Regions from separate parts of the Homo sapiens genome. Here region 2 is linked to region 1. A link means that fine-mapping ties the variant in region 1 to the expression of a gene that starts in the linked region. Tissue or cell type: whole blood. Region 1 holds a variant in brackets; the other region holds the start of a gene. All regions are shown on one strand. Distances are between the middles of the regions. Region 1 overlaps PTGER2 (prostaglandin E receptor 2). Region 2 holds the start of PTGER2 (prostaglandin E receptor 2).

Evidence for each region. PIP is the estimated chance that this variant, and not a neighbour inherited with it, causes the effect.
Region 2: it holds the start of PTGER2, and the variant in region 1 is fine-mapped to the expression of PTGER2 in whole blood (TOPMed, PIP above 0.99).

Annotation. Positions count from the first base shown.
Region 1 is chr14:52,328,111-52,344,071 of GRCh38, forward strand. It overlaps PTGER2 (prostaglandin E receptor 2), which reads left to right. Exons shown (of 2, transcript NM_000956.4): 2 at 1-488. Among named protein-coding and RNA genes, the nearest start is that of PTGER2, 22 kb to the left of the region's middle. The variant A/C (reference allele first, on the strand shown) is at 6,251.
Region 2 is chr14:52,304,076-52,319,024 of GRCh38, forward strand. PTGER2 (prostaglandin E receptor 2) reads left to right here and starts at 10,237. Exons shown (of 2, transcript NM_000956.4): 1 at 10,237-11,316. The coding sequence starts at 10,474. RefSeq lists enhancers at 9,467-10,027, 10,028-10,587, 10,822-10,971, 10,992-11,131 and a silencer at 10,192-10,301.

The DNA.
Region 1 (15,961 bases):
TTATAATGTCCATATGCTAATAGTGATCAAGAAGACTTTAGGAATGGTTCTCTCAACAAGAAATAATAGAAATGTCTCAAGGCAGTTAATTCTCATTAATACTCTTTATTTATCCTATTTCTGGGGGAGGATGTACGTGGCCATGTATGAAGCCAAATATTAGGCTTAAAAACTGAAAAATCTGGTTCATTCTTCAGATATACTGGAACCCTTTTAAAGTTGATATTGGGGCCATGAGTAAAATAGATTTTATAAGATGACTGTGTTGTACCAAAATTCATCTGTCTATATTTTATTTAGGGAACATGGTTTGACTCATCTTATATGGGAAACCATGTAGCAGTGAGTCATATCTTAATATATTTCTAAATGTTTGGCATGTAAATGTAAACTCAGCATCAAAATATTTCAGTGAATTTGCACTGTTTAATCATAGTTACTGTGTAAACTCATCTGAAATGTTACAAAAATAAACTATAAAACAAAAATTTGAAAATGGAGTAGTATTTTATGAACTCCCTCAAATAACATTTTGTGATTAATATAAACATAGTATCTTTTAAATGAGTTCAAAGTGGAAAAATTATATTTAATTTGGCAGATTCGTAAAGTGTGGTTGCCAGGTTTTAAAGTGAGGTTGCAAATTAGAGTTTAAAATATTCATTATAATACTTGGTATTAGAAGATATTTTTTTCCTCCAGTTTTTACCCTTCCAGTATGATCTTTAAAATAGTAGAATCATCTTATTTTTTTCATAGTGATATTATTGGATAGCCACTCCTTAAAAAAAAAAAAGAGATGCTTGTTTTCTCCAAAGTCTCATTGAGTTGTTTATCCAAAGCTATTTCCTTTAAGCAGTTATCAAACTAGCTGATCACTTAGAATGATTTCAAACCAATCTAGGCATCAGTGTATTTTGATACAAACAATCTACGTCAAATCAGCTCTTAAGAAGAATAAATAAGTGGTTTGCTTTTCTACAAATTTAAACAAGCCAGGCAAAATTTAACTTAACTAAAATCTAGACATGTAAATAAATCTTCCCTGTCCACCAGGCATTCTAAAGTTAAGAAATTATTCTAAATGGGACTAATTAGGCCCATGGGTAATTCCTAAACATAAAATTCTGAAGTTGCTTTGAACTAGAAGATTAATTACTTTTATCAGATGACTTGTTTTTCTCCAGATGAAAATGTCAACTACAATTTTTCACCCCACCTTACTGCCCCCCTAAAATCCCAGAATAATGCCTGAGAACTGAAAACAAAAACACAAAATTGGACATAATATCACTAGCAGGAACAAAATGATTTGCTCTGGAGCCCAAAGTATAAGAATTTAAGCCACTTATTTAAGCACTGGTATATTTCTAGAACTCTGTTTCCTCATGTACTCCTGTTCCATGTACTGTGCTGAACGACTAAATCCTGGTATTTCATTTATACCAATATATATGTAGAAGGAGTTGAAAGTAAAAATACTCTGTAATAGTCATTACCTCCTATTAATGGCAATTTAAAGGTAGCTTAGAAAAAAATTACTAAAATTAGATATGTAAATATTCCCTTTCTAAAAATCCTGTCACATCAGACATACCTGTTTAAGTTACTGTTTCATCATCAAGTTAAATAAAAGAACAGAATTTACTTAGCCTGATATATTAAAGACTGAATTGTGATAAAAGAAGATCTAGACTTTATTCTTTGCCCCTAGTAGTCAGAATGAAAAGGGAGAAAGAAACCATAGTCGGGATTCCCTGCAGCATGCCAGCCCTAAGTTTAGGTGTTTCGATATGAGATGGACCAAGCTCTCTGCTCTGAGCTGAATTGTTCCTAAATGGTTCAGTGTGGCCCTGGTCATCTTTTCCAAGAAAGAACTGAAAAATTCTGGTGCTAAATTGTGGCCTTGAATCTCCAAAAATCTGATCGGGATCTGAGTTTGTTTAGAAGGTATAAGATGACTCTAGAAGACCTGCATCACAAAGTGGGTTGGACCCATGACAACCCAGAGCAAGACCGAAACTCTAGAAACCACTCCAACTCCAAATCATGATGCTTGCAGAGGTCTCGAACCCTGAGGAGGGAGGGCAAAACTGATTCACATCACTACACGCTCATGTAACTCAGTTACACTTTGGCATCTCTGTCTCCTCAGCATCAGTGCACTTTGAGAGAGGGATTGTCCTAATGCTAATGGCAGGTCAGCTCTGATCTGAACCAAGAAATAACAACACATTCCACTTTAGAATTTGATGACTTTGAAAGGCAAGGGGAGACAATTAGCTCTCACTTAGGCAGAGTTTTGTTTATTTCACTTAGCTTAAGCCAAATCTAATGGTTTTTGGAACTTGGGAAGAGCCACTACTTGAGACAGTTATAGAGAGAGATGCATTCCTCTCTATAAATGAGTATTTCATTCATGTCGACTTGCAATGCCTGCTCTTACTTGCTCTGTTACAACCTGAATATTTGATGCCTCTCTTCTGCCTTCATCAAACACTCACTCCACTGGCTTTCCTCTCAATCACCTAACAGCACTATAATTGATTTTTAAATTTACAAGTCGTTTTGATGACCTAAAATACACACTATGGAAAGAAGTATTATTTTAGCAATTCACAAAAGCTACATTTTAATTTATACATGGGCCAAGGCCATGTATTAGGCATTACTTATTTCAGAAAATTACTTTTTTTTTCCTGGCAGCTTTTGTGTTACTATACAAAAAGAAATTAAGTATATTCTCTTGAATGATATATTTTTATTTCTTATGAAATGTATGTATTATTTAAGGTCAATTTTAGTGGTTTAATTCTGTGATCCATGTATTTCACGGCACATGATAAATCCTAATAAGGTTAGGGATTAGTATCATCTTAGATACCCATTTAGTGGCCCCTCTGACCTCTTTACACACATCTGGCTCTTATTTCTGATTCTCAATGGCGGTGGTGGGTGCTAGGGGTGATGCTATATATTAATTAACTCTGAGTAACTGTCAAGAAAAATGATAATACACAAATGGGACAAATTTGCGTTTCATAGAATGCAATGAAGATTGGTACACATGGGAGAATGTAGAGGAATGAGTAAGTATAAAAGAGAGAGGAGGCCGGGCGCGGTGGCTCACGCCTGTAATCCCAGCACTTTGGGAGGCCGAGGCGGGTGGATCACGAGGCCAGGAGATCGAGACCATCCTGGCTAACACAGTGAAACCCCGTCTCTACTAAAAATACAAAAAATTAGCCGGGTGTGGTGGTGGGCGCCTGTAGTCCCAGCTACTCGGGAGGCTGAGGAAGGAGAATGGCGTGAACCTGGGAGGCGGAGCTTGCGGTGAGCCGAGATCACGCCACTGCACTCCAGCCTGGGTGACAGAGCGAGACTCCGTCTCAGAAAAAAAAAAAAAAAAGGAACAAGAGAGACAGAAAGACAACAGGGCATATGACACCTCACCATTTTGGTGCCCTCCTCCAGATCTTATCCAAGTTATCAGTGCCCATCTAAAAACAGTGGGCCAGAACCAAACACCAGTAATTCTAAACCAGTCTTACCAATACTGAATGCTGATAGATCAGTTCCTGGCTTAATCTGGATATTATGTTTCTATTAATGCAACCTGGGATTACAAAGCTATCTAGAAACCAGGTCCTGTCTTTAAAACCTCCAACAGATGGAAGAAGCAACAGCATTCCAGTTTACATAGAGGAAAACTGGGTGTGCAGGGGTGAAGTGAGTTGGTCACTAGGGACATCCTCATAAGATACCCTTATGATTATGGTGCTGATCTTGCCGCCCTGAAACCACACAGCCATCATTTCTCTCTTGTCTCTTATCTCTTGCTTTTGGATTGGCTGTGTACACTAGGGATAGGGAGCTTTGGGCTTGTCAGTTGAACCTGGTCTTTTGGGTTAATAATTTTGCCCCTGAGATTATGTGCAACTAGATGCCAGTGCCCTACCCCAGAGAACAGTTCTCTTGAAGTGGAACTCACTGCTTTTAGTTATCAAACAACATTTTTACTAGAGTTAATTGGCAATACTCATCTCAGTCCTAAGAGTGTGCCTGATAGATCATGATAAATAAAATGTTTAACAATTCAACAGCAGCACAAGCAAACCTTTGAAGACATAGTGGAGACTTTTTCAGCTCTTACAGAGCTTCTCAGTGTGTCCACATTGTGAAGTGTTCAGAGAACAAGCCAAAAAGCCCTAGAGTTTTGAAAACCCAATGTTAACTTTTTATGTTTTTAAAAATAAATGTCCTCATGTTCCCCGCAGGATGAAAGGTATGATAACCAAAACACTGTGGGCTGCATGTTGTGGTGTACTACTCTCTGACCTGTAAAAATAAATTTTTCTGGTGTGAGTAGGCGTTCCGATAAAAGAAGAGCAAGCCTAATTGTAAACTAGAGACTTTATTCTCTTGACTACCTATTATGGTGATGAGGGAGCTGGACACCCACTCCAAGAGGAAACACTTTCAGATGTTCACATCTTTCCATGACATGCCAGTCTGGAAAACTAAGGAAGGTGAAGAGTCAGATTCCTGTCTTCTACAAATTTCTTCTGTGTGTGTTTTTTGTGTTTGTTTGTTTTGTTTTGTTTTTTGAGCCACAGTCTCGCTCTGTCGCCCAGGCTGGAGTGCAGTGGCCCGATCTCAGCTCACTGCAAGCTCTGCCTCCCGGGTTCACGCCATTCTCCTGCCTCAGCCTCCCGAGTAGCTGGGACTACAGGCACCCGCCGCCACACTCGGCTAATTTTTTGCTTTTTAGTAGAGACGGGGTTTCACCGTGTTAGCCAGGATGGTCTCAATCTCCTGACCTCGTGATCCACCTGCCTCGGCCTCCCAAAGTGCTGAGATTACAGGCGTGAGCCACCGCGCCCGGCCTCTTCTGTGTTTTCAATGAAGTTATAGTGAACTACAATGGCTGCAAAGAAATATTAAGTGGGGAAACAAAATCATCCTGTTATCAGTGTTAAAGGCTTTTTCAAATAATAAGGACTTTCCTTTATTTCTCTATTTGAGCACATTAAAATGCTACTAACTGGAATCCTTCATAGCAGGAATTTTGGATTAAGAGACAAATCACATGGGGAAAAAAGCCTGATAACTTTATTTTTAAACTAACCACTGAAAGGTTAAGTGAGAATCGTGACACTGGGATTGGAATGCAGACGTCTAATCAGGGAGATCTTCCATCTAGGTGAACTTTCCATTACCCAGGCCTCCTGTCTCTCCCCCTGCTCATCGACTCCAACCACACCGGCCACCGTGCTGGGCCAGGAGTACACCCAGCAAGCTCCCATCTCAGGGTCATTGCCCTGGCTGTTATCTCTGCCTGCAACAAATGCTCTTCCTCCAGGCAGCCCTGGCTCACTTCCTCACCTTCTTCAACATTTTGCCCCAGAGATGCCTCCTCAGTAAGGCCATTACTGAACCCTCTTCCTAAAACTACACGCCCCTGCCCTCCCCATTCCCTTTGCCCTCCTCTATCTATGAGTGACCTTAAACATACCTCAAGATTGACTTATATATAATACTCATGGTCTGTCGCCCCCGAGTAGAATGTGAGTCCCAAGGACAGAGATTGCTGCCTGTTTTGATATCTAATGTTATGGTATCTCACACTTGCCAAGTGTCCTATACACGTAGAACTATATCTTATACATTTCAAGGCCTTTTTCTATTTTTTATTTACTCAGTGTGTTAACAGTAGTGAGGGCATATGGGTCGCAGCAACTCGATTTTTGCCTCAGGAGGAAAGAATTCGGCTGAGGGGCATAAGGCAGAGGGAGAGACTGAGGCAGTTTTAGAGCAGGAGTGAAAGTTTATTAAAAAGTTATAAAGCAGGAACAAAAGGAAGTCAAGCACACTTGGAAGAGGGCCAAATGGGTGACTTGAGAGATCCAAGCATGCTGTTCGGCCCTTGACTTGGGGTTTTATACATTGACATAGTTCCAGGGTTTCTGTTTCTCCTCCCTTGATTTTTCCCTTGGGGCAGGCTGTCTGCTTGCACAGTGTGGCCTGCCACATGCAAGGTGGGCCACATGCAAGGTGGTTACTGAAGTTGTGCGCATGCTCATCTGAGGCACTTTTCCCTTATCAGTCATGTGTTCCAAAAAGAGGGTCATATACCAGTTAAACTCTGCCATTTTGCCTCTTAGTGCACATGCTTAAGCCTGCTCACCCAGCTCCCAAGATCTTATTGGGAAGGTGCTGATCATCACTTTCAGGTGTTTTCTATCTATTG[A/C]GACACAGCCTTTCCCTGGCACCAGCTGCAACCAATTATTATTTTAAAGAGACAGTTTAACAACCAGCTGACTACCACCTAATGGCTGCCTGACATTCCTGGGGTCGGGGACTCTCCTGTCCAGCTCATGTCTGCCTAGCTACCTACTCTAACAAGTATATTCTTCGAAAGATATTTTGAAAATGATCCCATACCATGTTTTGAATGTGGTAAATCTCATTTAGTCTTCAAAACAACACTGTAAGGTAGGCACTGTCCCCATTCTACAGATGACAAAACGTATTCAAAATTAAGCAAATAGCTCAAGATCACACAGCTTTTAAGGGAAAGTTAAAAAATTAAACTATTTTCTGGCCAGGCACAGTGGCTCATGCCTGTAATCCCAGCACTTTGGGAGGCTGAGGTGGGCAGATTGCGAGATCAGGAGATTAAGACCATCCTGGCTAACATGGTGAAACCCTGTCTCAACTAAAAATACAAAAAATTAGCTGGGCCTGGTGGCACACGCCTGTGATCCCAGCTACTCATGAGGCTGAGGCAGTAGAATCACTTGAACCCGGGAGGTGGAGGTTGCAGTGAGCTGAGATCGTGCCACTGTACTCCAGCCTGGGCAACAGAGTGAGACTCCATCTCAAACAAACAAACAAACAAAACAACAAAAAAGAACAATTAAACTGTTTTCTGATTTCAAGCCAGGGATCATTCTACTGACCCTACATAATGGAGATCTATAATGGCCCTCTATTTCCGACTCTATTCCCCCGGAAGGAAAACCCCATTGGCATGGCCCTGGCCTATCACCACCATATTTGCAGTATCTAGGATCATGTCTGATATGTAGTAGGTGTTCATAAATATTTGTTGAATGAACGAATGGCTAGTGTCAAGGATACAATCTCTGTCAGTCTCTGAAAGACTTCATCTTCCTCCTGTTTTCTTCCCCTCCTCTCTGAACAACTCAATGTGAAGCCCTTTGGGTGGGGCAGACTAAGGCAGGCTTCTGCAGCTGGGGGTGTGAGAGCCCACGCAGGGGCCTGGAGCGGATTGTTCAAGCTCAGGTTGGGCGAGGATGGGGGTGCTGCTGTGCAGAGTATGGAGCCCTAGTGGACTGGGGAGAGTGTTCACACAGAAAGGCAGCCTACAGTGGGCATCAGAGTCCAAAGCAGATAAGAAGGTTATTCACACAGGGGGTGTGACATGGTGTGGGGCACTGGAACCCAAACAGGGAGGGAGTGGGTGCCCTGGTATTGGGTTGTGGGGCCTGAACAGATTGAAGCAGAGGAGGGTGTCCATTCACAGGAGCAGCCTTGCATGGACAATCAGAGCCCAGGGGCCTGGGGAGGCTGTCCACATGGGGTGAACTGCTCTAGGGAGGCAGAGCCTGACTGAGAGGATGGGGCATCCTTGCAAGGGGATGGCCCAGTGATGGGGTTTAGGAACCTGAGCAGGGTGAGATGGGCATGCACTTGTGGGATGGCCTAGCATGAGCTGTCAGGACCCAAGCAGGGTGAGCATGGCCTCCACGTGGGGTGAGCTGGGGACTCAGATTGGGGACTGACAGCTTGAGCAGGAAGAGGGAGGTGTAGGGAGAGGAAGATGTTGGAGATGGGAGATTGGCTACATACAGAAGGATTTATCAAATAAACAAATATATTAAAAATAACAAAAAACAGTTTAGTCACTGTTACAGAAAAATGAAGGGGAAAAAACTGGAATGGATGCTGTGGTGTTGGATTGGAATTGGGATATTGTGTTAGCTCATATTTTTCAATATATAGAGATAAATATGGAAATAAATTCATATGTAAATGTGTGTGTGTGTGTGTGTGTGTGTGTGTATCCTCTAGCTCTCTCCACTGAGAATAGCTGGGATTAGCAACCTCTTCCCCATCCAATAGCAATGAGCACACCTAGCTCATAGGTCTTGTTTTCTAAATACCATTTTCCCCTGAAAGGAACCAGGGCTCCTCTGAGAAATGGCTGACTTCAAAACTGGGGCAGGGAAAGTATAAAGCAAGCCTGGAACATCTTAATTATAAGGAAGTGCTTGAGGAATGAGAGAGCCACCTCACAAGAACACAGAAGCCGGTTTGAAAGGGGATTCCCACTGACCAAACTGGGGACAATTTGAGCATCAACATATATAATGATAATAATAGATTATGATCCCTTGAAAAAAATAGGAAACAGTGATTCCACACAGATAAAAACAAATTTAAAAATGAAAGTTTAATGAGAAACAAGCGACTTACAAAGTTTCAAAGTACCTGACCATAAAATAACCAAAGGGAAAGAATCACTTTACAGTAAGAAATCCTGACAGACCCTAATGTAATCGGGAGACCAAAGTAAACTATCATCAGTGACAGAACCAATTAAATTCTAAGCCAGAAGACAAACTGCACTAAGAATACAGTGTCACTTCTGGGATATTTCTTCTTATCGAAGAAGTACCTGAAAGAAGTAGCCTAACCCTAATCATGGAGAAATACCAGACAAACCCAAATTGAAGGATTTCTACAAAATGACTGGTTTGTAATCTTCAGAAGAGTCAAAGTCATGAAAGTCAAGACAGTCTGAACTATTCCAGACTGAAGAAAACTAATGGGACAGGACAATCAACTACAACAGGGGAATCAGAACTAGATTCTGTTGCTATAAAGAGCATTATTGCGACAACTGGCAACACTTAATAGGTCTTGAGGAATAGATGTTAGTAATGCATCAGTGTAAACTACCCGATTGTGGTTATTAAATTGTGGTTCTATAGGAAAATGTCCTTGGAAACACACAATGAGGTACTGAGGAATGATGATGCACCATGTCCACAACCTAATCTCAAATAATTCAGGGGGAAAAAGTTATGTGTACTGTGCTCCTAATGTTTCTGTGAGTTTATGATTGTTTTGATACTCAAAACAATTAAAAAATAAAACAGTAGGCATACTCCCTTCAAAAGAAAGCAAACCAAAAAAGGTCCATACTGTTTGCACATAAAGATACATTAACAATGTAAACTAAAATCAATCTAATTTCTATCACTCTAATTTTTCCTCATATATTTTGTTTTTGAGTTGTGAATGAAGATGCATATATGAAACGAATATCAAAACTAAATGCCAGTGATAGCTATCTTACTGGTTGGAGAATTAGGTGGTCCACAAAACTGCTATCTATCTATCTATCTATCTATCTATCTATCTATCTATCTATCTATCTAGAGACAAAGTCTCACTCTGTTGCCCAGGCTGGAGTGCAGTGGTGCAATCTCGGCTCACTGCAACCTCCGCCTCCTGGGTTCAAGTGATTCTCTTGCCTCAGCTTCCCGAGTAGCTGGGACTACAGGTGCGCACCACCACGCCCAGCTAATTTTTGTATTTTTAGTAGAGACGGGGTTTCACAGTGTTGGCCAGGATGGTCTCAATCTCTTGACCTCTTGATCTGCCCACCTCAGCCTCCCAAAGTGCTGGGATTACAATCATGAGCCACTGTGCCCAGCCAAAGCTGCTCTTTATAAGAGTGGTTGTCTTACCAACTTGTTTACCAACAAGTCAGGCTAAGCATTTATATGACATGAAAGGAATTTATATATTTATCACTCTGTTCCCATTAGAGAGAAATAAACCAAATACATTGACAACTGTGAACTGTTATTTAAATTTACATGACTTATTTTGGAAAAATAATGCAGTTATTTCAGCATTAAGTTAATGATAATTTTAGCTATTATATGAAAAAATGATTCTGTGCAAAAGAAAACAGTAGTCTACCCACTAGAGGTCTAGCCCACATTGTGATTATTTGAATTTGTGGGCTTTTGCAGCTTCCTCAGAATAATGAGTTCATTCTTAACTACAGAATAGCTGCACTTCAACCTTCTTGTTACTCACTTCAACCTGCACAGATGCAACAAGGTTTTGAATCTCACAAATGGAGATTTATTATTCTTAAAGATGAATTTCCATAAGTCCTTTCGCATAATGAAATTTCCATTTAACTTTCCATGCATTTCCATAAGAGCAATAAGGAAATCTGTTTGCTCACTTCTCCTGTCAATCATAAATCTATGCTCAAAAGCATGGAAGGATTGTGTTTACTCTGCAGACTGTGCACCAGGATACCCAGGGGAGGGAGCAGATTGTCAGGAAATTAGTCACAAGTACTGCCTCATCTACTTAGTACTAATCTCCTCCCCAGCCCATCCTCCACCCTGGTGTAGGGGTATTGTCCTTGGAAACAGAATAGCACAGTGCTTGGTATAAAATTTGAACTTTGAAGTTGGACAGACCTCATTTCAAATCCTAACTCTGCCACTGTTGTGTAACCTTGAATAAGTTACTTAGACTTTCTAAGCCTGTTTTTTCACCTTCATCATGAGGGTAGTAGCTGCCCACCTCATAGGATTTCGGCAAAAAGTCAAATGATAAAATCATACCAAAAAAATCACATGAGGCATATGAAATACTTAAAACAATGTCTGGTACATGGTATGATCTTTAAAAATGCCGGTTATTATTATCATTATTGATATTTTAAAATGAGAATCTGATCATGTTTTTAGGATCCCATACTTATAGTGTACTGATTTCCAATCCTCTGCTACCCAAACCTTTCTCATCATGTGGGACCTACACACACACATACCACCACCCACCAACAACACTACCAATACTAACAACAGCACCACCAACAACACAACCAATATAACAGCACTACCAATACTAACAACAGTACCACTAACACCAACAACACTACAAATACTAACAACAGCACCAACAACAACACAACCAATATAAGAACGCTACCAATACTAACAACAGTACCACTAACACCAACAACACTACCAATATTAACAACAGCACCAACAACACAACCAATATAACAACACTACCAGTACTAACAACAGCACCAACGACAACACTAGACTTACTACCAATATAACAACACTACCAGTACTAACAATAGCAACCTAACCAATACTAACAACAACAATACTAACACTAACACCATCACCAACACTACCAGTACAAACAAGAGCACCATCAGTGCTACCAATATAACACTACCAATACTAACCACAACAGCAACACCACCAATACTAACAACACTACCAATACTAACAACACTCACCAACACTACTAATATTAACAGTACCACCAACACACTACCAATGCTAACAACAAAAAACTACCAATACCAACAACACTAACACCAACACCAATACCAACACCAACACCACCAACAAAACTACCACCACCAACAACAGCACTACAAATAGCAACAACAATACCAACACCCTCACCCACCCACCACCCCTCCCAACATCATCACCATATTTGTGTTTGCCTGATGACTGTGACAGATGTTACCAACAAGTCTGAAGTTGACTGGAGAGCCTGAGGAGCCCACTGAAGCCAGAGGTGTTGCAGCTGATTGAACCTATGTTGTGTTCACAGCAAGAAATCCCCAAAGAAGTAGTGACTGGAGTGACTGCCCTACCTGTCTCCATCCATCCAAAGACATTTGGAGGCATTCATGTATGTATTTCCCCCAGGTAGTCTCACTGCTGGCTCTCTCATTTTGTTCAGGTCTCTGCTCAATGTCACCTCCACAGATAAGTCTTCCCTGGTCTATATAAATATAAAAAATATAAATCACTCGATAAAATATTTTCATTACTCTCCTTCCCCTTCCCCTCAGTCTGTTTATTTTTCTTTCTATCACCCTTCTCACTAGCCGGCAATATAGTATCTGTGTCATCATTTTGTGTGTGTGTGTGTGTGTGTGTGTGTATTTGTGTGTGTGTGTATGTATTGTCTTTCTTTACACATAGAAAAAAGTCTCCTATCATGGCGAGGCCTTTGTCTTTTTTTTTTTTTTTACTATTAGAACAATACCTCATATAGTGGGTGTTCGATAAATATGTTTGAGTAAACAAATACATGAATCAATCAACCAATCAATCAAACTGTCAGCCAGCACTTTAGGGGCAAATAACCCTAACTTTTAGTTGAGGCCAAAGGTCCTTGGAAAAATGAAATATTCCCATGTTTGCTACAGGGAAATTTACAAAGAAAAGAAGACGACTTCAATAGAGTTCACGCAAAAAAAAAAAAAAAAAAAAAAAAATCCCCAAAGCAGCCTTCACTACAAAGCTCTTAACACACACTTATAAAAGCATATATTTCTGTGTTATTTCTTTCCTGTTTATTTTCATGACTGAGTTTTTTCTCATGAAATAGGTTTTTAGGAACAGAACCCCACTCTGTAACACTGCAACTACAGGACTTCGCAGTCCAATCTGTGACTGTTGTCTAGGAACCAATTCATTCCAAAGTCATCAGTTTCCCCACATCACTGGATTTCCATCATCCCCAGAGTTAAGATCCAAGCCCCTTGGTGGTCAAACAAGGATGGGCTGGGTCCACTCACTTCCCCATCTCATTTCAGGCAACACCTGCTTCCTCCCCTCAGTGCTGAGATACTTCCAGTTTCCCCTCTCCATGCCTGGGTTCCTGCTGCCCCTCAGACTGCAGCACCTCCATTTCCCTGTGCTGCTACGCACTTAACCACTCTTAAGTCTCTGAGGAAGGTATTCCTGACTTGCACTTCCTACCATGACCATAATGAAAATCAAACGAATTCAACATTGTAATCAATAATACGTTTGCAACCCTTTGCTAAAACTGTTCAGAGCAAGTAAAACTAATATAATGGCCCTGCTTTTTCTCTGATGCTGTGTATTCTCTGAAGACATATCTCTGAAATGTTTTCTTCATAATATTCTGAAAAAATTCACCCTATTCCATATCCACTGTAGATCCTAAGATTCTAATTATGATAATATAATATTCATCTCTCCGAATACCTGTGGAAGTATACCATGATCCAAGCCTGTAAAAGAAATTAAATACAGGTGGAAAAATAAGCCTTAGACTAATTATTTTTCCCTCTGCAGATAATCTTACAAACAGCACCCAGCTTTTAAGAAATGGCAAAAAAACAAAGCAAAACGAAACTTAACACTGATTTAGTCAGGCATATCTCTGTCAACTCATTCTATCAACTTTTAACTCAGCAAGAACTCTAAACAAGGAAGCCCAGTTTGGTCAGTCACAAAACTGTATATTATTTCATGAAGATTTTCAGAGTATAAGTGATATCTCAGAAATAATGGTGTTATATCTAAATACATCATTTTACATGAAATTTTCTCAAGGCAAAACAAAATAAAATGGATCTCTGATAAGCATTTGCATTTCTTATGCCAAAAAACAATACCCCAGGGGCTAAAACTAGAAGCTATAGTTTGAGTTTCCTAAGAATTCAAGATAAAATATCAAATAGTGACATAAATAATAAACTCAGCCACATATGTTACATTAAAAAACTTTTTAGTAGGCTTCCACTTTAAATGTTGATCCCAAAGTCTTATTTTACATTCAGATATTTATTTCGAGTGAAGAATTTTGAACTAAGAATAATGACCAACGTGGGCATCTAGCTTTGGCTGAAAATTAAACAAAAGAAAAATCAGCAAATACACACATAAGAGAACTTGTGCTTTGATTGTGAAGCGGTCATTATGACTGTATATTGCGTTTCCAAACATCAGTAAATAACAGTGTTCACTGAGAGGATTCTTCTCCAGAAATGAAAGTGTTGATTGAAAGGCTTCTTCTTCAGACTTATCTTTGGAAAGTCCTTTGAAAATCAAGTACACATGCGTAAATACAATTTTTTTTCTTTTTTTCTGAGATGGAGCCTCACCCTGTTGCCCAGGCTGGAGTGCAGTGGCATGACCTCGGCTCACTGCAACCTCCGCCTCCCGGGTTCAAGTGATTCTTGTGCCTCAGCCTCTGGAGTAGCTGGGATTACAGGCGTGCACCACCACACCCAGCTAATTTTTGTATTTTTAGTAGAGATGGGGTTTCTCCATGTTGGCCAGGCTGGTCTTGAACTCCTGGCCTCAAGTGCTCTGCCCGCCTCAGCCTCCCAAAGTGCTGGGATTACAGGCGTGAGCCACTGCGCCTGGCCCAGTTGTATTTTTTGTATCCTATGTACTTCCGGAAAGGATTTCAGGAAAGTTACAATGGTAAGTCACCTATGCAACACAATAATCATGTACAATTATGTATTTCTAGTTATATATATGAACTAAATGAAAATAAACTACTCTTTCCTTAATACCACATTGCCTGTCTTTTGTGTTGATGATATGACAGACATTTGTTATCTAATCCCAATAAGAAGAGAAAAAAAACTCAACTGCTAACGGTGAGGCATTCTAGAAAATGTAATGGACAATGTCCAATATTGGAACAAAAGAAATGCTCTTCAAATGTAGCCTTAATTAACAGACCTTTATTAAAATTTTTAAACTTGGCCCAGTTCAGGTATTCTGTATACACAGACAAGACAATATGATATATATAATAAGATACTTTCTGACTATCTAGCAAGACAACAATCATGGTGGCTTTTTATTGTGTCAATGTAGTTAAGCTACAACTGTTTTCCAGAGCTCCCTTCTTTTCATGGTTTTGGGTTCAGGTTGGCCACAAGAAAAATGTTTGCCAGAATTAGAAGGCAGTAGTAAAGCCTCAGCCATGTTTAAGCTCTGAAGGGCAACGTTAGGTCAGGTAACACTGTGGCTCATGCACATTGTTAGATTTGCTGACTCATCTTGTTGGCATGGGAGGGCAATGGCTGGGCCCCCAGCAACCCATCTCCTCCCAGATCTCCATGGGACAGCAGCCTGGCCCACTGCATCTCCAACAGGAGCTAGATTGCTTTCTTCAGCTTTTTTGAATCCTGCACCAGGTTCATGTGCTGTGCCAAGTGAGTGCACCAGGTCTTCTGAAGGTCACTCACATCATCAAGGGGGTGGTGGGAGCCCAATAAAAGATATCCTAAATAACTATCCTAGATATCCAAGGCTGATAAAAGAGATCCTAGAAAAAGATTACCCTATCATTGAGATTTATCTGGCTTCTGGCTTCCTTCCAAGATATTTTTAGCTTCATACCATAAACAGGGCATGTAAGGGTGAGTCTACCCACTTTCCCAAGAGGGCTGTCTTTTAGGCCAAGGAAAACAAATGGTAAAAAGGTGAGGGATCATTCTAGAAAGATCTTTATAGAACTGACAGAGTAAAAGAAGTGGCTAGGTTTCACAATTTGGACAGGCTATCCCTGGAACAGTACACATTGTTTCTTTATTCACAATAGAAAAAAAAAATACCTACACATACATACCTACAAAGCCAGTTGACCAGAACAAGAAGGAAATACCTTAGAAAATGCCTTATTCTATTGGCCTGGAAACCTAACCAATGAAGTGAGACAAGAAACAGAAACACATATGAGAGTTAGAAAGGAAGACACATTGTTTGTAAATAATGATTGTCTGCATGGAAAATCCACTGGGCACTTTAAGCAAATGATCGGAATAATTTTTTTTTTAAGTTCAGTAGGTTTGCTGGAAAGATCAACTTGGAAAAACCTATAGTGTTCCTACACACAATGACAAATGAGAAAATATAATTTTTAAAAATTTATACCATGAACAGCAAAAATTACAAAGTAGCTTGGAATAAATATATCAAAAGATGTGAAAGATCTTTATGGAGAAAATTACACTACTTTATTGAAAGGCATAGAAGACTGACCAAATGTACAGTTATATTACTTTCATGAATGGAAGACCCAA
Region 2 (14,949 bases), 25 kb before region 1:
CAGCAGGGTCCCAGTGTACGTACATTCTACAAAAGTCAAGGCCAGTTATCTGCACTCATCTTATTAGACCTTCCAGCAGCACTGGCCAAGTCTCCCACTCCGTCCTTCATTCATTCAACACATCTGTATTGAGCACTTACTCTATGCCAGGCACTGTTTTAATCCTTGTGGTACAACAATCATTTAAAATGACAAAGATTCCTGCCCTCTGGAGACTTATATCCCAGCAGGGGGAAACAGTTAACAAACAAAAAACAATAAATAACTAGATTACATGGTATGTTAGAAGGCAATAAGGGCTATGGGAAGGAGAAAACATAGAACTCAGCAATAGCCTTGAAGAGTTTCCCTTTCAGCACATAATTATCCCTATAACGAAACACACCCTCTGTGACAATATTTGATATCAAGTCAAATTACAGAATACATCTCTACATCCTCACATAATAAAAATGAATCACATTTTCATCTGCTATCTTTCTGAAGTCAGTGCTCTCCTCTCTCCTAATTCTCCTGGATTTGATGTGAGGACACTGGAGAAAACACAGAAGGAACAGCTGAAACTCGAGAAGGGAGAGTGGGGATTTGGTATTTCCCATTGCGATACTATGTATTGGATCCTGGGGGCAAGTAACAGAAATGGAAGTGGCAAACGTCCAGGGTATAAGCTGACTCCTTTTTTGCCCTTTTTCCAATTATGTCAAGTGATAGCTACTTTCTCACAGTAGAGAGTGAGTCAGAAATTCAAAGTATGATAAATGGTCCAGAAGTGAAATTCTCTGTGGGTTAATACTTTTTGTTTTCATGTGAAAGAAAATAAAGCTATTGTGTAAATATAATAATTATGGTAAGCATTGATTTTATACTAGGAATGGCAGATTATTTGCAAAAATGACTAAAATCATTCCTTCATCGCTGTATGCACACTGCTCCCATCAAGAGGTACTGTCTGTTTCCCCCTCCTTTTATCCAGTCGGGCCTTGGGACTTACGTTGATTAGCAGAATGTGGTGGAAGTGATGGTGTGAAACTTCCGCATGTGGGCCTTACAACATCCACTTTCACCCTTTTGGAACATTATGCCACCATAGGAGCCAGCCCAAGCTAACCTGGTGGGAAATGAGACAAGAGCTGCCAGCTGAGGACTCCCAGACAAACCAATCCGCATTCAAGCCACCAGGAGACTACAGCCGCAAGAATGAGTCCATACAAGACCAGCACGAGAACCTCCTAGCTGAGTCCAGACCAACATAATTGACCCACTAAACATAAAACAATAAAATAACTTGGTTTCAAACCAATTCATTTTGAAGTGGCCTGTTATACAGAAATAGGTAGCTAATATACTAGGTATTAAATATTTATTATTTATTAAAATGATAATTGTTTTAACATTGAGCTTTGTTCCTTTAATAAGTAGAATTTGAATAAGTAAATTTAATGTTTATGAAAAGAGATAACAGTGAGGAGTATATACTGGAACCTTTTTTTCAATAAAAAGTCCACTAGCGGCCGGGCCCAGTGGCTCATGCCTGTAATCCCAGCACTTTGGGAGGCCGAGGCGGGTGGCTCATGAGGTCAGGGGATCGAGACCATTCTGGCTAACGCGGTGAAACCCCATCTCTACTAAAAAATAAAAAAAATCAGCCGGGCGTGGTGGCATGCCCCTGTAGTCCCAGCTACTCGGGAGGCTGAGGCAGGAGAATGGCGTGAACCCGGAAGGCGGAGCTTGCAGTGAGCAGAGATCACGCCACTGCACTCCAGCCTAGGCAACAGAGCAAGACTCCGTCTCAAAAAAAAAAAAAAAAAAAAATCCACTAGCCCTATATCTTGGTATAAGTGTTTATTTTTATAAAAATTAACCACATTATACATAGTGTTTCATGACTCACTTCATCCACTCGACATTGTAGATAACTACCCATGTCAATACATGAAGAGGTATATTTTTAAGTAGTTGCATAATATTCCATTGAACAGATACACATATTTGTACGACTCCCTTTTGACTGACAGCTGGGCTAGTTCCCAATATTAATGTACTATAGATAATACTGAAAGGAACTTCTTTATACTTACAACTTTGAATACTTACTGTTTCAGCCTCAGTTTTCTGATCTGTAAAATGGAGATATATCTGACCCCTCCTATAGAATTGTTATAAAGATTAATGACACTGTGGGAGGCTGAAGCAGGAGGACTGCTTGAGGCCAGGAGTTTGAGACTAGCCTGGGCAACATAGTGAGACCCTGTCTCTACAAAACTGAAAAATTAGCAAGGCATGATAGTGCACATCTGTAGTCCCAGCTACTCAGGTGGTTGAGGCGGGAGGATGGCTGGAGCCCAGAAGTTCAAGGCTACAGTGAGCTATGATTGTGCCACTTCACTCCCGCCTGGGTGACAAAATGAGCCTCTATCTCTAAAAAAAGAAATAAGATGAATGAAATAATGCGTATGAAGCCCTTAGCGGTTTTAGGAATATAACGAGCCCTTAATAAACTGGTTTTGTCATCACTATTATTATAAACTTCATTAGGGCACAGACCATGTCAGCATGGTCCCTCAGGGCCTGGCACATTATAAGTGCTCAACATTAAAACAGCTGACACCCGCTGAATGCTTTCTATGGGCCAGGCCCTGGGTTCAACTGGAACTTATGAAATATTACAGGTACTGCTATTATCCCCATATTACAGATGAGGAAATTGAGGCACATAGAAGTGAGGTAACTTGCTTAAGAACAGAGCTAAAGTTTGATTTCACAGCAATCTGACTCCAAAGCCCATGCTCTTAAAACTATACCATGCTGCCTCAGTAAATATATCCCCAGTAAATACAGAAATCAATATGATAGATTTCTAGAAATGCAATTTCTGGGTCTCAGGACATACATATTTTAAGGCTTTTAAAACATATATGTAAGGTAAGTTATTATAATGTTAAGTTTTTGAAAAGCAGTAAATAAAATTTTATATGCAATGTTATCATAACTATGAAAAACAATGCACAGAAGAAAAATGGAAGGAAACTCATCAAAATGTTAAGAGTTACCATTTCTGAAGGACAATTCATAGGTGACTTTTTTCCTTCTATTTTTTTTAAATTTTCTATAGTGAGTTGTTACTTTATAAGAACAAATTAAATAACCATAGCTTTGCTTTTGGTGTTATATGTGTTGTTCTACCTCACAGTTGGTTCTGTTCTTGAAAGCAAACCTAAGAAAAAGAATTTTCATGATTAAATGGCACTCTTTATCCTCTATCAATCTTAGAAAGGAAATTAGGGTCACAGGTAATCTGCCTTCCTAAAACGAGCGTGGTAACTTGTTTGATCTAACTCCTGGCGCTAATAAGGAGTATTGTAGATTTACCTGTCTGATATTTCCTGACTGAGGACAAGAGAACTGTTGTGCTCTTGCATCCATTTGCAAAGTGCTTTTTATTGACTCAGGGTTTTGCAAAGACTTTATCAAATTGTTTCACAAACAATCCTGTGAGGTTGTAGTGAGTTCCACTGAACCTTGGATACACATACACACCTACATGAAAGCAAATGTAGCCGGATAATAATTTGACATATCAACCTCTGTACTTTTTGCCCAGTACTTCCTGATACTCCAGAGCTTTCCTCAGTTTTAGCAGCAGCTAGGGTGTTCTCTGCTTACTCCCTCAGAGAAAGAACAATATAACAGACCTTGAAGAACACAGGTATCAATTCTTGACTTTCAAAAGCCTAGGCTTAGAGGAGGCCCAGATGACAGAAAATGAAGAATAGCAAAGTTTCACCACTTCTCCCCCATCTAGTTCCTCAGCCTGTGAAGGAGAGAGGGTAAAGCTCAAGAGAAGAAGAAGAGCTTAGATGTTAACACAGAGATTTGTTAAAAAAGTGGTCCTGTACTCCCAAATCTCAGAGAAGTTTCAGGGATCTGACATCACAGAAAACCTATGCCTCACTTGGGTATAAACAGGGTGAGCAGGAGAAAACAATAGTTCCCTAAGCCTTACACGGTATGGAAAGAGTGAGAATATCTCCCATGAATGCAGAAGTAATGAGGACATGGAAAGAAATGACTAGTCATCAAGTTCACTCTTCTGCCAATTCCAACCTGCTGTAAATTTTAATTCTGGAATTTCCGTTGGGTTCTTTTTAGAGTTTCCATTTCTCTACTGAGATTCCCTACTTGTCCATTGACAATTTCTCTAATTCTTTGAACATATTTATTAAATTCAAAATCTGGGCTATCTGGAAGTCGGTTTCTATTGACTACTTTTTTTTTTTTTTTTGACATTTTGGTGGACTAGTTACCACCTTTAGGAAAAAGGAACTTCCTGGCAATGCTAGTGTCAGAACTGGATTAAGCAATGACATTCGGGGATGACAATAATCTAATGTCGAAGTAGTTGCTTGAGGTGAAGGAAGGTATTATTTTGATAGAAACGACACATCATATGTAATGGTTTCCAATCTTCAAGTAAGCATGACAGTTGTAAAACCCTTGTGAAAAGCATAAGAATAGTATCTCCAATCCTCTTGATTGGCTTCAAACAGCTGGCATGACCTGCCCACTCATTAAAGAGTAGAACTGGAAGAGAATTTAAATCATTAACATCTAAGTCCCCGCCTTCTACTAAGTAGGAAGACTATGTCCTCCAATGATGATAATGTTTTTTCTAATCAAAAATCAGCTTCCTTGCATTCTAATATAAAGGTAATACATACTTACAGAAAAATCAACCAAAACAGACAGGTATAAAGAAGAAAGTACTACTTAATTACTATTAATATTTTGTTGAACATCCTTATAGATGCTGTTCTATGCAAATCCTTATGCATATAAATATTGCACTCATACTGTCACCAACAACGGACCCATTTCTCTATGTCTGATTATACTGGGTGTGCGTAATCTTTCCAAACTTTACCAATCTTTACCATCAGACAAAAAGTAAGACTCAAATTTTTCTGAGTGATTTGGTTCTAGTGCTGAGGATGAGCATCTTGCCATGTACTTCTTTCTGGCTTTTAATGGACAGTATGTGCAATATATAGTGGCCTGGAGAATAAATAAGATGGTTTGCTACCATACTCCCAGATATATTGCACTAACTCTGTGTGTCCTTGAGTAAGCCACTTAACCTTTCAATGCCTCCATTTCTTCACATGCAAATGAAGGATTTGGAATAGGCGTTCTTGAGCTTCTTCTCTAGCTATCAGTAGGGGAGTGATGGGGAATGCACCATGCAGATCTGCAGTAGGCATCTTTGGGTGACTAACTCAATAGCCATTCCCAGCCCCTCTCCCTTCCCTGCTTCTATTCTAGAAGAGGCTGGAAAAACCCAACATCCCCTCTGTAGGCCTTTTTTGGAGTTAAGGGATGACAATATGACCAAATTCTGGCTAAAAAGACAGAGGGAAGTCTATCTGGATGCTTCTAGAAAGCCTTTTGCTTTCCTGATGGAAGAAACAGGCACAAGAGAGAGCAAGCTCACCAGCACTGTCTCTCCTTTGCCCCTGGCTTCCATGTAGACTTGATGCCTAGACCCGTGGGACAGTAGTTGGCTTCGTATTGTGTTGGTCCAGCTAAGCAGCATCTGTTACGCAGAATCCTCCCATAGTTCCAGGTTAGCATTGGCCACAAGGGAAATATTGCATGAGATCTGGGAGGCAGCAACCAAGCAGCAGCCATGGTTTTTATGCTGTGAAGGACAACACAAGGCGTGAGGAACATTGGCAGTTCTCACGCATTGTCGCTGACCTGCTGCCTCACCTTGCTGGCATGGGGCAGCAAGACTCACAGTTCCTCCTGCTCCCACCAGATCTCCTCCTATGGCTTCTTCAAGTCCTAAGCCAAGTGCATCTGTAGCTCGGTAAAGGGTGCCAGCATGTTTTGCAGGACACCTGTATTATTGAGGCTGGAGACAGTGAGAGACACAGGCAGATCCGGTCTGTCCTAAAGGACTTCAGTCATTCATGAATTTCAGTTTGTTCTCACAGATTCCAGTCTGTTCTTGCTATCATCCACATCCAACTTTCTGCCCTGACTGAAATCCTGACTGACCTATAGTGACTTCAGACTCAACACTAGAACCGAAGACAACAAACAGCCATGCCAGGACTCCTCCACCAGGTCTCACATCCTGCAAGGTCTAGGGCAGCACTGTCCAGTAGAACTTTCTGTGATGATGGAAGTGTTTTATTGGGCACCTGAGCTGCCCAATATGATACCCACAAGTCACACGTGGCTATTGAGCATTTGAAATGTGCCCAGTGCTGTAGAGGAGCTAAGTTGTTACTCTTATTTAATGTTAATTAATTTAAATTTAAATAGCCAGATGTGGCTAATGGCTACAATATTGGTCAAGGGAGGCCTAGTGCCTAATAATAAATTCCATGTTTTCTTAATCACTCGTAGTGGCTCTGTTTCTCTGGTTGAATCCTGACTGATACAGGCAGCAGCTGCTAGCTACATGGGGAGAGCATGGAGACACAAAGCCAGCATTACTAGGAATCACAGGGCTAGAGGAAGAAGCAGCCTGGCTCCTGGAAGTTCAACCAGCCTACAACCTTTGAACTTCTTAGTAAGAAAAAAAATAGACCCCCAGTGGGCAGTGAACTATCACTGTGTACTTCCAATAAACCCTGTCTCTTTTCTTGGTGGCTTCTGCTTCCTGCCGTGAAGTGTAGACCTTGTCTCAAATACCACAGGACACAGATGGTGTTCTTAGGACTCAATTTGAAAAAAAAATGTATTTATGCATGCATAGGAATCATAAAATATAAATTTAAACTCGTCTTTTGAACGAGGAAAGTAACATCAATAAAACTATGAACAAGAATTAATGTTAGCTTTTTGCCCAAGCAATTCTCCTTTCCTTCATGTTTATCTTTGCTTTCTCTTGAAGAATGACCTAAAGGAAGTAACCCACCTTCCACAGTCCTTTGAATTCATGGATACATAAATGAACACTATGAACTTTAGACTTTAAGAAGTGTATATTAGTCAGGGTTTGCCAGAGAAACAGCCAGTAGGATGGATATACATAAAGATATTTATTATAAAGTATCAACTCATGCAATTGTGGAGGCTGAGAAGTCCCACAATCTGTCATGTACAAGCTGGAGACCCAGTAAAGCTGGTGACAAAGTTTGAAAGTCTGGGAGCTGAAGAGCCAGTGGTGTAGATTCCAGTCCTGGTCTGAAGGCCTGAAAACCATAAGTGTCAGCGGCAGGAGATCAATGTCCCCACTCATGCAGTGAGGCAGAGAGTGAATTTCACCTTCCCCTACTTTTTTAGTCTATTCAAGCCCTAATGGATTGCATGAAGCCCACCAACACTGAGAAGGGCATGTGCTTTACTCAGTCCATCAACTCAAACACTAATCTCCTCCAGAAACACTTTCACAGACATACCCCGCCATCATGTTTAACCAGCTACCTGGGCATCCCATGGCCTAGTCAAGTCGACACATAAAATTAACCATCACATAGTGTTCCCCACATACAATGGCCCCACAAACAGGAACTAAACAATTAGCAAAGCTCTATGGCTCAATTCTAGAATTGAGGGTGTTAATCTGTTTTCTGTTAAGGAACTCTAGGCTCTATGTAAACTGAAACTGTATCAAAATGCTGACACTAAAATTAGAAATGGGAAGAAGTAGCTTTTAAACCACAAAATTAACTGGGGGTAACTGACAAGCAAGATTAGACTTGCACTTAAAGGAACAAACGTGATGGTCCAGTTGCTACGTAGCGACAGCAAACTTATCAACTCTCCTACTCAGCAATCTAGCAACAGGGAACACAGCAAACTGCTAAACCAAACACACACACACACACACACACACACACACACACACATATGTATGTATTCTGTCCAAATGCTGGAAGCAATTAAAAGGAGTAATTTGAACAAGCAATGCTGAGCAGCACAGTAATTAATAGGATACTGGCCTCCCAAGATTTATAGGGCCCACTCTAGTCTTCCTCTTGTCACATACCTTACCACAGGTGAGACACCCTCAGGGCACTATTCACCCAGACCCCATTACCCCTCCATTCTAGACCACCTTCCAGGTACCTGAGATCATGAAATTTCCTGCTCAAATGTTGGTCCCATAACTCGCTTCCAGGGCTTGATCAGGCATCTTCCCTAGGTCCATCCAATCAAGGGTCATTTGCATGTTTGAGATGCATATTCCCAGGACCAAGGTGGCTTTGGGGAGAGAGCTTGGTTATCAACAACTATAGTGTCCACATATTGAACTATACTGTCCACATATTGAACTATACTCTCCACATATTTCTGTGCAAGACTCCTTGTGGTGCAAGACTGAGTCAGGGGTTAGGAAGACAAGGGGGCAGGGGCCTGGGGGAGGATCTTCAACTGCACTCTTGCTCTCGTATTCACAAAAACCAGGGGCCGGCCTGCCACCAGGTACCCATCCAAAGAAAAGCTAGAGACAAATATATAGGAAAGGTTAAATAGTAGGTTTTTGTTGTGAGGGGCCTTATGAAAATTAAAAAGGTATAAAAATATTCGGAAAATAAGCACTGTGCAAATTCAGTGAATCTAAAATCCCTTATTTAATAGTAAAACTGCAGTGCAGAATTATGCTATAAATCATAGTGTTTTCCTATTAAGAAATACTTCTGATTTAAGTTTGATGTTTCCCCATTGCTTGGGGTGAGATGGGGGAATGTTGGAGTAGGGGAATAGTCAGAGATGGATGGCAAAGATTGGTAATAAGTTGTTACTGACCTGCAGAGTTTACAGCTTGAAAGAAAAACTGTAGGAGTTAAGATCCTCTTTCCTAGGAATCCATGCCATGAGAAGTTTAGGGATTGAAGTAGTGCCTGCTGACATGTGAAAACCGGCCTGTAAACTTTGCAAGCGATCCAGTAAATTATGCTTGTTCTAGTGGGAACCACCCCCCCCAACTCCGCATTCCAATCCCCAGGCCAGAATCATCAAAGTTGGCAAAAAATATTCATGGAGAGTAAGCAGGCTGTAGCAAGATAGGCTCTTCAGCAGGCAATCTTTGCTTCCTCCCACGTTATGACTGTCTTTCTTGCCAGTTCCCTAGGCAGATCAGACCCTTCACTTCCCAGTTGGCCTCCCTTCCCCAAGTGAATGTGACTTCTTACAGAACACAATTACCTATGTTGTCTGCCAAACTGGATTTTGTTTTGTTTTGTTTTGTGTTAAATATCAGCCCATTTTCACGACTCTGCAATTATGACAATATGTGGTAGGAAACCATTACTGTCAGCTCCAGTCTGAAACTGGCCACTTACCAATACACTTTGCCAGGAACAAGTCTTTCTGGATGGATACTACGTGGTTAACAACATGTAAAGATAAACGGCTAAACAAAATATCAACATTTTCTTACAAGGCTCAGCTTAAGGACAGAACAGTGATGTGCAATGGTTTTCATGTTGTATCCACAAACACAATTCTGTATAAGACACACTCCTCTTTTTTTAATGGTTGCTTAAACAAGTGGTTATCCGTTATGCTGTTGACATAGGAAACGGTGAAATGCTAGTAACCGAATCAAAGCGGCAGTGCAACAGGCCGCTCGGTGGTGCGCATTGTGTGGTTTGGTTCCTTGGATGGACACACTTGCTTTACGCTTCATCCCAATTTTTGTCCCAACCTCTTAGTGTATCTTCCTGGGAATAGTAAAAACAAAGCAAAACATTCTGGTCTTACTTCAAGCTGCCTTTGCACTGTTATTCCCTTGTTCCGCTCATTTCACGGGATTGGGTTCTCCTAACTTCATTGTTTGGTGAGTTGCTTTGCTTTGCTCGTTGCCCCGATCTTCTGTGTATTCTGCGCAGACCCCGCAAGTGCTCCTGCACTCCCTCCCAGCCCTCTGCTGGGGCTTAACGCTTCCCAGCCGAGGTCAGACTGCCGTGCGCTTCGAGTACCGGACCCCGAGGAAGCGAGAAACGCCGCTCCCGCCGGTCGCGGGCAGCTTCAGTACACCGGCAACACGCGCGCCTCTGCCCAGTGCCGCGCCCAGCGGGTGCTCAGACTCCTTCTCTCCCTCCCCGCCGGCGCGCCCCAGGGACTCGGAACGCCCCCGCGAGTGTGACGCGTCCTGCCTCCCCTGCAGCTCGCGGACACTCGCACTTGCAAGGCCTGGCCAGCACTCTTGGGCCCGCCCCCCGACAGTGCGGGGGCGGAGACGACGGCTCCCCTAGGCTCTGGCTCCCGGCCTTGGCCGGCGCGGGTAGGCGCGGGAGCCTCGAGCGCCGCTCGGATGCAGCAGCCGAGCCGCCACTCGGCGCGCGGCGGGAGACCCAGGGCAAGCCGCCGTCGGCGCGCTGGGTGCGGGAAGGGGGCTCTGGATTTCGGTCCCTCCCCTTTTTCCTCTGAGTCTCGGAACGCTCCGGCTCTCAGACCCTCTTCCTCCCAGGTAAAGGCCGGGAGAGGAGGGCGCATCTCTTTTCCAGGCACCCCACCATGGGCAATGCCTCCAATGACTCCCAGTCTGAGGACTGCGAGACGCGACAGTGGCTTCCCCCAGGCGAAAGCCCAGCCATCAGCTCCGTCATGTTCTCGGCCGGGGTGCTGGGGAACCTCATAGCACTGGCGCTGCTGGCGCGCCGCTGGCGGGGGGACGTGGGGTGCAGCGCCGGCCGCAGGAGCTCCCTCTCCTTGTTCCACGTGCTGGTGACCGAGCTGGTGTTCACCGACCTGCTCGGGACCTGCCTCATCAGCCCAGTGGTACTGGCTTCGTACGCGCGGAACCAGACCCTGGTGGCACTGGCGCCCGAGAGCCGCGCGTGCACCTACTTCGCTTTCGCCATGACCTTCTTCAGCCTGGCCACGATGCTCATGCTCTTCGCCATGGCCCTGGAGCGCTACCTCTCGATCGGGCACCCCTACTTCTACCAGCGCCGCGTCTCGCGCTCCGGGGGCCTGGCCGTGCTGCCTGTCATCTATGCAGTCTCCCTGCTCTTCTGCTCGCTGCCGCTGCTGGACTATGGGCAGTACGTCCAGTACTGCCCCGGGACCTGGTGCTTCATCCGGCACGGGCGGACCGCTTACCTGCAGCTGTACGCCACCCTGCTGCTGCTTCTCATTGTCTCGGTGCTCGCCTGCAACTTCAGTGTCATTCTCAACCTCATCCGCATGCACCGCCGAAGCCGGAGAAGCCGCTGCGGACCTTCCCTGGGCAGTGGCCGGGGCGGCCCCGGGGCCCGCAGGAGAGGGGAAAGGGTGTCCATGGCGGAGGAGACGGACCACCTCATTCTCCTGGCTATCATGACCATCACCTTCGCCGTCTGCTCCTTGCCTTTCACGGTAAGTCACTCCCTACGTTTCCACAGCCCGGCTCTGCTCAGCCTTCTCATGCTCTCCCCTGACGCCTCCACCCTTTCCACCGCCCTACAAACTTTTTGCAACTTGTAAAAATATGTCCTAATTTGTAAAGATCTGTAGCCTTCCCCACTAGTTTCCCCTCCTCTTTAGCCCACTTCCTTATCCTGGCTTATGGGCGTTGCTAGGCTAGAGTTTCTTATACAATAATACAGACCGTCCGAAAGGGAGTCCTGGGCCTCAGCTAAGCTAGCCAATCTCCTCATCCTAGCCCTGGGCAGTGTCCCTTTCTCGCTGTTGCCTATCTTGGCTTAGTAATTGAGAAAGAGGCAGCCCCTTCCACCTTAGGATGGCTGTCACTGTTCCAGCCTGACGACCTGGAGCTGCAGTTTGCTGCCCTGTACCTCTCATCCACTGGTGCTGGTTCTCCATGCTTGCCTTCTGTTCCTGCCAGGGCAAAATGTAGTACCCAACCCATAGCATTCCAGCTGCCATTGAAAATGGTCCCAGATGAGAAGGGTCCCTGAAGCAGAAGTTTAGAGCATTTGTTATTTGTCCTAAAAGTCCAACAAACATCTAGTTTATAGGTTTCCCAATTTATATATTTGAATGTAACTCTTTGTGGCCATGAAAGTTTATAAAACCATAATGATAACTAGAGGAAATACTTGGAGGAACATCTTGCTAAGCATTTGTAATATCTTGCAAAACACGCTCTTAATGTCACTGTCAGAAATACACACAGGTGTCCTTCAGCTTACAGTTATGCACTTGATGAGCACAAAGCCACAGGCAGGAATGGCTGGTCCCTCTCAGGAAGGGAAGAGTGGGGCTACCTGGGGAACTGAAGGACAAGAGACCAAGTCCTGGCATCGTGCTGCCTTGATTTGGGGCAACTTTAGCAGTTATTTGATGCTAACTAACTGCTAAATGATATGAGGCTGTGAGTTCAAGTCTCCTCAAGTGTAACGTTTTAGCTGAGCCTGGAATATGTCCGAGAATGTGCTGGCCTCTTACGGGGGCTAGGAATTGGGAGTTGTGGCAACTCCACTTCCTAATCTTCAGAAGAGCAAGACTGATGCTGCAGCATCAAAGCAGTTAATAGTGACTTCCACCTGCCACAATCTTGGAGAAAAGAGATGGGCAGTGCCTACTATTAACAGGTCTGACCTGTAAAAGCTGGAGGAGAAGTAACTTTATCCTATCTCCTGCCTCCATTACTGCTTCTTACATCTTCATGTGCTCATCCTCAGGGATGGGAAGGGACACAGGGTCCCAAAGGTCTGAATATGATTCTCTCCTCCCCAGCCCAGTTAACTCCCTTAGCTACGTTCTCTTCTCCCTGGTCCCCACTGTCCTCACCCTTCTACCCCATCCTCTGTCAGGGCAGAAACTGTTCTGAATTGGTTACACTTTGAGGGAATGAGATAGAATATTCAAAGACGCCCTCTTATAAAATGAAGTCGGACTGTGGGAGGCTGCATCTCCCATACCACTCTGAGCAGGGGAGTTTATGCAACAGAAACGCTGTGATGTAGAAACCCACATGGCTTATATGCTTTTGATTTATTTTACTGGTAGGAGCTTTTGATTATGTTAGGAGCTAAATCAGCTTTTGAAGGTCAGCACTAGGATGCAGAACATATATCTATGAAAGAAAGCATTTCAAGTTCCACCAAACAGCTTTGCATTCAGCTTGGGGATCAGAAACTATTCCTGAAAGACTGTCTTAGGGTGTTGGGAATTAAGATAATCAGTTCTTAGGGTTTTATCTGTCATTTGTGAGTATATTTATAAAAATATCCCCCACTATCAGCTACTTAAATAGCCTGGGAATGGGTTTGGGGTGATAACACACTTGTGAAACGATTTTTAGTCTCTTTCCTACACGAGCAAGAGGAAAAAGTTCTCCTCTTTGATCATGACTGACCCATTGCATAAACTGTATTTTTTTTAAATAAAGGTAGTGGTTTCCAACAGGTTGCCCTGTTTTCATGTAAATTGGCCTTTTACCATGAGAATTCCATCGTTGCCTTATGTTTTTGTAAATTCAAATATATGTGTGTGGATATAGATATAGATATTGTTTTCCCTCCCTCAGTTAATATTAGGCCAAGGGCTGCTCCAGAGTTGCCAGATAGAAGGGGCTTAGCCACAGAAATCTGGCTAAAAGGTGTTGAGGGAGTAGGAGCTTTGCTTTGAAGCTGTGTTTTTATTTCAATTTCCTGTTTATGGCTTAGGGGGAGCCAGATGGAGACTATGAAGGGGCTTTAGCTCCCCCAAACCACCTCTAAGCATTGACACTATCAGCAAACTGCTTTTGCTTCTGGCAAAGATTCCCAAAGAGCCGGAGAAAATCCTAGTGTGAACATAATCAGAAAGCCAGCCTCCCTGACTTCCATTGTTGGAGCTACCATGACACCATATTCAGATGAACTATACACAAAATGGAAATTGGAAGCATTGTCACCTCTTAGTAAGAAAATTTATATTGACCACTGATGGATTTTATTTTGTCAATAGATTATTGGGAATAATTGCTAGTATCTTTCACTTACATAGCACTTTAAGCTTTATGAAATGCTGTACTATCTTGATTTAAGTTATTTCTTGAAGGGCTTATCTGAAAATTCAAGCTCATGGCTACTGTTTGGTTCATACATTCTGCTGTTCAGAATCCTTGGCATGTGCCTCCAGGGGAGGTTGCTTTTTCCTCCAAGTCCTTTTATTCTACTTGGCCCACACTAAAATTGTGGTCAGAAGTGGCCTATACCAATCTCCCACCTGAAGCAGGAATCATTTCCACATGTCCTAACAGGGGGCTCTAGAAGCAAAGGTTTATGGTTGCCTTCAGAAATGTTTCTGTTTCTCTAACGGAGTGCACATGATCTGATAGAAATACAGTGTGAACCACAAATGCAAGCCACAAACGGAATTTTAAATGTTCTAGTAGTCATATAACAAAAAGTAAAAAGAAACAGAGAAAATTAATTGAATTACATATTTTATTTAACCCAATATATCTAAAATATTATCAATTCAAAATATTAGTTATGTAAAATAATTATTAATAAGCTATTCCAAGTAAGTTTCTTCCTTGTATCCCAGAAAATAGTAGCAATCTACTCTATCTCTTCCCACTCCTTCCTCAGGATAACAAGCTGCTTTCTTTGTCCCTCAAAAGTGGACCAAACCACTGGCAACAAGGAGGACAGCTGTACCCAGTGGGACACCAGTCTATTCCACAGCACTCCAGTAGTGGACAGAGGAGGGAAATGGGGGAATTCAGAAACCTAGAACTACTAATGTCAGGCATTGTCCCAAGGTTTGGGCAGGTTGGAATTACTGCTTCCTCCAAAGATGCCAGTCTAGGGCTTCCAAAATTTTGGAAGTAAAACTGTAGTTTTTTTTAAAGGCCCAGTCCCTTCAAGTGAAGTCCAATTCAACCTCATATGTCATTATTATCGACCACAAAATCAGACTTTTGAATGCTAACTTTTGCATTAACCCATTATCTTCACAGCACCGTAGGAAATAGTATGATGATTTCTATCGTACAGACGAGGCAAATGACTCACCCTGTGTCCCACAGCTAATGGGTGGTGGAACTGGGACTCA